Linked DNA regions of Homo sapiens. The protein of the gene in region 1 purifies or fractionates together with the protein of each later gene. This does not show direct contact. Each region holds a gene or a part of one and is shown on either strand. Other genes may lie near its edges. The genes, in order: STPG1 and PRTFDC1.

The links.
Region 2: the proteins of STPG1 (region 1) and PRTFDC1 purify together in Homo sapiens (affinity purification with mass spectrometry; one large-scale study listed by BioGRID and IntAct). This does not show direct contact.

Annotation. Positions count from the first base shown.
Region 1 is NC_000001.11:24,407,247-24,411,070, reverse strand, and holds part of STPG1 (O(6)-methylguanine-induced apoptosis 2), read left to right. Parts: intron 1-3,824. UniProt on the Homo sapiens protein: May positively contribute to the induction of apoptosis triggered by O(6)-methylguanine.
Region 2 is NC_000010.11:24,851,494-24,855,317, forward strand, and holds part of PRTFDC1 (phosphoribosyltransferase domain-containing protein 1), read right to left. Parts: intron 1-3,824. UniProt on the Homo sapiens protein: Has low, barely detectable phosphoribosyltransferase activity (in vitro). Binds GMP, IMP and alpha-D-5-phosphoribosyl 1-pyrophosphate (PRPP). Is not expected to contribute to purine metabolism or GMP salvage.

The DNA.
Region 1 (3,824 bases):
AGGATAGGCAGTGTTAACCACTTCACATGGATCAGCCTAAGAGGAAGGTACTGTTATCACTCCCAGTTTATGGAGGAGGAAATAGGCTCAGAAGTTTAAGTGACTCATCGAGAATCAGAGCTATTAAGTGGCAGGCCATAACCTTGAACCCAGGACTGGATACTCTGGACTGCTGCGCTGGCCCCCACGTAGGAATCGCTTAAACATATGTTGTTGATTCGGAAAGTGGTATATCTTCACTGCTCTTTCTTAGATTCTAGGTCCATGCCATCCTGTCATGGACAGTTATACAGGTGGACCAGTGAGGCACACCTGGGCAGTGCTCTGTTCACATCTGTCCTGCACCTGCTCTCATCCTGCCTTCACAGGTATGCAGTGAGAAGACTGGAAAGCATTATTAACAGTGTGGTCTTTTGGTGGTAGGATTGGGGATTGTTTTTTATTTGTTTGTTTGTTTGTTTTGAGACGGAGTCTCGCTCTGTTGCCCAGGCTGGAGTGCGGTGGCGCGATCTTGGCTCACTGCAATCTTCACCTCCTGGGTTCAAGCGATTCTCCTGCATCAGTCTCCTGAGTAGCTGGGACTACAGGTGCACGCCACCATGTCCAGCTAATTTTTGTATTTTTAGTAGACATGGGGTTTCACTGTGTTAGCCAGGATGGTCTGGATCTCCTGACCTCATGATCCGCCCACCTCGGCCTCGCAAAGTGCTGGGATTACAGGTGTGAGCCACAGCGCTCGGCCATGGATTGCAGATTGTTTAAAGTTTTTTTGTAATTTATCATATTTTCTTAAATGTTGACAGTGTACATACATTATTATTATAGTAGTCCTCCCTTATTCAAGGGGGATATGTTCCAAGACCACCAGTAGATGCCAGTGAAACAGTGGATAATACCCAAACTGATTACTGTCAATCAGACTGTTTCTGTTCATATCTTCCACTCACAAATTTAATGCTTTTTCCATCTTAACTAAGCACTTATCATGCTCTGTGGCAACAGCTTTTTATAGTTTGAGGTGAAGCACCAAAACTAGCACCAATTTTTTTCCCCTTTGAAATTTGATGGATAGAAGTTTTATTCTTACTGTAGATCTTAGCAACCTCAGAATACAGTTTTTTTCTTGCCTTATTAAGTCAAGAACTTTCACCTTTTCACATAAAGGAGGCACTTTACAGCTTGTCTTTGGCATGTCCAAAGTGCTGGCATCACTACTCTTGTGCTTTGGGGCCATTATTAAGTAAAGTAAGAGTTACTTGAACACAAGCACTGAGACAACGTGATGGTGGATCTGACAATCGAGATGGCTACTAAGTGACTAATGGTGGGGTAGCAAATACAGCTTGAATGTGCTGGACAAGGATGATTCACATCCCAGGTAGGGTGGAGTCAGACGATAGGAGATTTCATCACATGCCTCAGAATGGTGCATAATTTAAAGCTGATGAATTATTTATTTCTGGAATTTTCCATTTAATATTTTCAAACCACAATTGACCATGGGTAACTGAAACTGGAAAATAAAGCTACAGACAAGGGTGGACTACTGTAAAACAGGAAGCTTAATATTTTTCTAATCACTCATAATTCCAGAACACTAATACATTTTTTAATAACAGCTTTATTAAAGCTAGGGCAGTAGATGGTTCTTACTAAAATGGTATAACACTGAGGGGTGGTAAATGAATAGTGGCTGCTTTGGTTATTTTTTGAGACAGGGTCTCACTTTGTCACCCAGGCTGAAGAACAGTGGCACGAACATAGCTTACTGCAGCCTTGACCTCTTGGGCTCAAGTGATCCTCCTGCCCCAGCCCCTAAGGTAGCTGGGACTACAGGCACATGCCACCATGCCTGGTTAATTTTTATATTTTTTGTAGAGACGGACTTTCACCATGTTTCCCAGGCTGGTCATGAGCTCAAGCTATCGCCTAACCTCGGCCTCCCAAAGTGCTGGGATTACAGGAGTGACCCACCACACCCAGCCCTAGGGGCTGCTTTTATAGATACTAAAAGACCTTGTTAAGCTGGATTGGTGATTGTGCTTTGATCATTATTGATTTGTTTCTGTTATTTTGAATCTCTTAATTTCTTGAAGAATGTTGTCAATAATTCTATTAAATATCAAATTTTTAGTATAGATTGTCCACCAAAAAAAAGTTGAAAATTGCTGCTGTGAGGATTACAGAATAAAGTAAGGAAAAATACTGCATGGAAAAGGACCAGTAGAGTGTAAAATCATTTATTCAATCCTTTACTCATTAGTATATATAAATGGTATAAGTTCCTTAGGGAAAAAAATGGGCAAAATGAAACCCAAGTCTGCTAATAAAAAATAATTGCTATGGAAATTAAATTGTGCCCTTGCTATTAACAACTAAAAAGTAGTTAAATGTGTTAAACAACTCACATTGGACAACAGGCACAGTACAATAATCCCTGAAGGAAGAAAAACACGGTGAGTCCTACAATTGCCCCCATTTAGTACTGGGGTCAGTTTTTAGGCCATATTGTAGGAAATCCAAATGAATTCTAGATTTCTGAGTTGAGAAGATAAAAATAAGAATTCAGAGAGGCCAAAGAGGCTAGAATTTATAGGGAGAACCCTAAAGGAAGGAGCTGCACCAAAAATGTTCAGAAACCTGAAGAGAGGTCTCCTTAAGTTTTTGGCTGAGCAGTAATCTGCACATGCATGAGAAGAAACTAAGACTGGGGAAATACCCATCAAAAGGCCATAGGCTGAACAATTTCTGGGGCTTAAACAGAACTGGGAATGTTGCATGTTACCATAAACCAGAATGCAGAGACATGGTATTAGATAGGAATTGGGTAGAGTTCACAGAAATGTCATGCCTTAGTAGTGGGGATAAATTATTCCCAGAATAAAAGCTGCTCTGGACTTGCCATAACAAAGTTTAAAAGCTTGAAAGGGTCAGATGGATCTACAAGTTACTGAAAAGTGTGCCACATCCTTTGCAGGAATATATCAAAACCCAGCACCCAGCAATGTAAAATTCAAAATGTCCAATATCTAATACAAAATTACCAGACATGAAAAGGAAAATATGACCCATATCTGAGAGGAAAATCAACCAATAGGAACAGACTTAAAAATGACAGATTATAGAATTAGTACAAAGAAACCTTAAAGCAGCTACTATGAATCTTACAAATATTCCTAAGGATGTAAAGGAAACTGAACATGATGAGGCTAGAAATAGAAGACATAGAAAAAGAGCCCAAATGTAACCTCTAGAAAGAAAAAATACAATATTTGAAATAAGAATGCAATGGATGGGATTTGCAGCTGATGAGACTTCAGAAGATCAGTGAACTTGGCCGGGCATGGTGGCTCATGCCTGTAATCCCAGCACTTTGGGAGGCCAAGGCAGGTAGATCACAAGGTCAAGAGTTCAAGACCAGCCTGGCCAAGATGGTGAAACCCCGTGTCTACTAAAAATACAAAAATTAGCCAGGCATGGTGGCAGGCACCTGTACCCAGCTACTCGGGAGGCTGACACAGAGAATTGCTTGAAGCTGGGGGCAGAGGGTGCAGTGAGCCGAGATTGCGCCACTGCAATCCAGCCTGGGTGACAGAGCGGGACTCCGTCAAAAAAAAAAAAAAAAAATCAGTGAACTTGAAGACATGACAATATAGACTACCCAAATGAAGGACAGAGAGAAAAGAGACTTAAAAATATTGAACAGAATATCAATAACCTTTGGGAAAATATGAAATGATCTAATATAACTGTAGCCCCAGGAAAGAAGGTGGCAGAGGCAGAAAAACTATTTGAAAAAATAATGGCTGAATATTTTCCAAATT
Region 2 (3,824 bases), on another chromosome or scaffold:
AAGGAACAAAATTTAGATTATATAAATGCAAGTCACCATATGCTGCTGTCGCCACTCAAACTTGAGGACCTTTCATTGAGGCAGGAGGGAGTGAGAAATGGTGAGAAATGCACACGATGAGCCCAAGAGGGACCTGGACCCGAAGGACTACTCGGGAGGAAGGAGGCAAGGCAAACAAGCCAACCTACAATGAAGAATGACTGATCTAGCATACAGAGTTGAGAAAGGGCTCAGGAAGCCTGGTGCATAACAAGAAATATGCATAATTGAGTCACGTGGCCCTGGTGTTCTAAAGCAAGCAGTATGCAGTGATACGATGCCAAAGGAAACACTCTCAACAACACAAAGGAAAGTTCAAGCAGAAGGCGTTACGACGCTGCATTATGTGAACAGGTGCGCGGGCCACAGCAACTAGAAAGCAATTCTCCCGCTGTACTCAGTGTCTTGGCTGTTTAAAGGGCTGGAAAGCAAAAGCCAGGACACAAGATGAAAGGCAACGGGATTGTTCAACTTGAGGAAGAGAATGTGGAGGTTGCATTAATGCTGGTCTTTGGGTTCATGATGCAGAGGATATTAATGAGCTCCCTACTGAGGGCAGAATGAGAGGAAATGGATTTAAGCACAGTGCAAGGTACTTATGAAAAGCAAAAGAAGATTCATTGAAAAGATGATGATTTTTTGTCAGAAAGGATTCTTTTTTTTTTTCTGAGACCGAGTCTCGCGATCTTGGCTTACTGCAGCCTCCACCACCAGGGTTCAAGCCATTCTCCTGCCTCAGTTTCCCGAGTAGCTGGGAAGACAGACGTGTGCCACCATGCCAGGCTAATTTTTGTAGTTTTAGTAGAGATGGGGTTTCACCATGTTGGCCAGGCCAGTCTCGAACTCTTGACCTCAAGTGATCCATCCGCCTCAGTCTCCCAAAGTGCTGGGATTACAGGCATGGGCCACTGAACCTGGCTATTTTTTGAGAAAGGATCTCACTCTGTTGTCCAGGCGTGTGATCATGGCTCACGGCAGCCTCTACCTCCACAGGCTCAGGAGATCCTCTCACCTCAGCCTCCTGAGTAGCTGGGACTACAGGCATGCAAAACTACGCCTGGCTAATACTTATTGGAGAGAATTCTTAAGGAACAGACAATAGCTCTCCTTCTTCAGAAGTCTTGAAACAGAATAAAGGTGCACTGGTCCAGTGATTTTCAAACTTGTTTCAGTGTTTTGGAATCTTACAGGTTTGTTTATTACAGTATTATAGATGAGAGATTTATTTGCTTACTTTTAATGGAAGTGTACTTGGGTACAGCCAGTGGGCTTATAGCCTGGGCAAAGTCATCTCCACAGTGACTATGACCAACGATGCTTTCACAAGAAGAAAACGACTGGTTCATGCTCATAGAAAGTACTGGAGGTACTTATTTTCTAGGGGGTTACATTATGGAGTCCCTTGCTAGGAAAATAAGTACTAGAGGTGAGGGACTTATTTTCTAGGGGGTTGCATTATGGAGTCCCTTGCTAGGAAGCCTGCTTGATTCCTCCAAACTGCAGAGTTTCTTGAAAAAAAGAGTAAGAGAGGAGAAGCAAGAGCAGAAGAGGTCAGAAGTTACATTGAGGAGAAAAGAAAGAATCAATCAGGAGAAAGGAACGCAAAGTACAAAGCCTCATAAATCCAGAGAGAAAGAAGGAACAGAGATTCTGAGCTAGCTAAAAGAATATGAAGCCGGGTGCGCACCTGCAGTCCCAGCTATTCAAGAGGCTGAGGCAGGAAGATCATTCGAGGCCAGGAGTTTGAGACCAGCCTAGGCAACAAAGTGAGATCCCATCTCAAAAAGAAAAAAAAAAGGTAAGGTGCAGTGGCTCACGCCTGTAATCCCAGCACTTTGAGAGGCTTAGGTGGGTGGATCACCTGAGGTCAGGAGTCCAAGACCAGCCTGGCCAACATGGTGAAACCCCATCTCTACTAAAAATACAAAAATTAGCCAGGTGTGGTGGTACCTGTAGTCCCAGCTACTTGGGAGGCTGAGGCAGGAGAATCACTTGAACCTGGGAGGCAGAAGTTGCAGTGAGCCAAGATCACGCCACTGCACTGGGCGACAGAGTCAGATTCCGTCTCAAATAATAATAATAATAATATGAGCAAATCCCAAGAAACCCTGTTTGTAACCAGGGTTATAATAATGACTTTATAGGGAGCAATGCAATCCTTCCATTAGGCAGGGCAACTCACACTGGGAAAATGAGAGCCCAAAGCCTATTTAGAAGGCCAAAACTTGAGATGTCATAGAATAAAAGGATGATGGATCAGCAGGACAATCATGAATCAGAGTGACCTATCCTTAGCTGGTAAATGCAGGCAGCTCCTACACTTACATTTGCAATAGCAGATGTTACTTGCAGATGTAGTGGAAGAGTCAGGGCAGTGACTGAAACCAGATTGCCTGGGCTTAATATTGGCCTGACACTCATGGCTACATGACTTTGGCAAGCTATTTAAGCTTGCTGTGCTCAATTTCCTCATCTGTAAAATAGGTACAACAACAGCTCCTACCTTTAGAGAGCTATTGTGTGGATGAAATGAGCTAATCTCTGTATAGCTCTTAGAATAGTGCATGGCACATCACGACCTCTTCCTAGTGTTAGCTGCTATTATTTTATTGCTGTTATTATAAGTGATATAAGAAATTTGTCATTGAAGTGAATGTTTTTCAACTTCAGTTAAAATCTTATTTATACACTGAGTATCCTGTACTATTTCCTTAGACAATTTCTGCTTAGTAACCGCATGCAACCTTGACTACATCCAGATTATACCTTTGATAATAGTAATAGATGAGAACATGCGATTGGGTCTCTCTGCCCAGAACTGACATGGTCCAGAGTTAACACATCCAGCACAGGCATGAAACTTGTTTTCAGAATGTAGAGTCACTGGCTAAATGTCGCTGGCATGTCACCCATCCATACTGCACTTCTCTTTCGCTAATGTTTGTTCAGCTTGCTGAAGAGAACTGTAGCCAAATTATCCCAGGAGCTTTGGAGCAAATGTAAGTTATAAAAATCAAGCTGAAGTCTGCCTATGCAAGTGAAAAAAAATCGCCTCTAGTGTTAGAATAATAAATAATTAGGCTGCGTGTTTATCCTTCTTGGTGTTAGAACTAGGCTTATTATGGGGAGAAGGGAGGAGAGTGTCCTAGATGAGGAAGCCCTAGAGAACACACATCTGAAGTCAAGTGTGAAGATGGTATCTAGAGATACCTGCTCTGCTAATTCTCTGTGTTACGGAGCTTTGGTTTGGAGGTGAAGGGGAGCTGTCTTAGATTTCCCCTTCTGTGCGTTACAATTCAGGCTTGCTAAAGGTCACCATTGTGCGTTGTCTGGTAATAGTTCCGGATGATGGCATAAGAATCCCTCTAAACCTCCATAGCACCTCTCCTTGTCTGACTGGTGAGAATAGAGGCCAAGGCGGGGATCCTATGTGTCTGAGTCAGTCCAGCGGGATCAGGTCTTCCTCTACTCCCTGAAACTTTTCAGCTGACTTCTCTGTAGTTAAGGTGCTGTGTGAAACATACAAATAAAAATACCCAATGCACGGAACAGAGTTCCTGTGAAAGATGCAAATTAGAACATTGAAGACCCTCATTTTGAAGGGTTCTGTTTTCCCTATCAAGGTGGGGGAGATCATGAGGAATCCGTGGGACTATCAGCCCTACACAGTTTCAAATCCACATGCAATGCTGTCAAATAGGAAACCAAAGATTCTTAAACATAAAATGAAACACCATAAGCACAAAACAAACAAACAAACAAACAAAAAACTGAAAAACACTTAC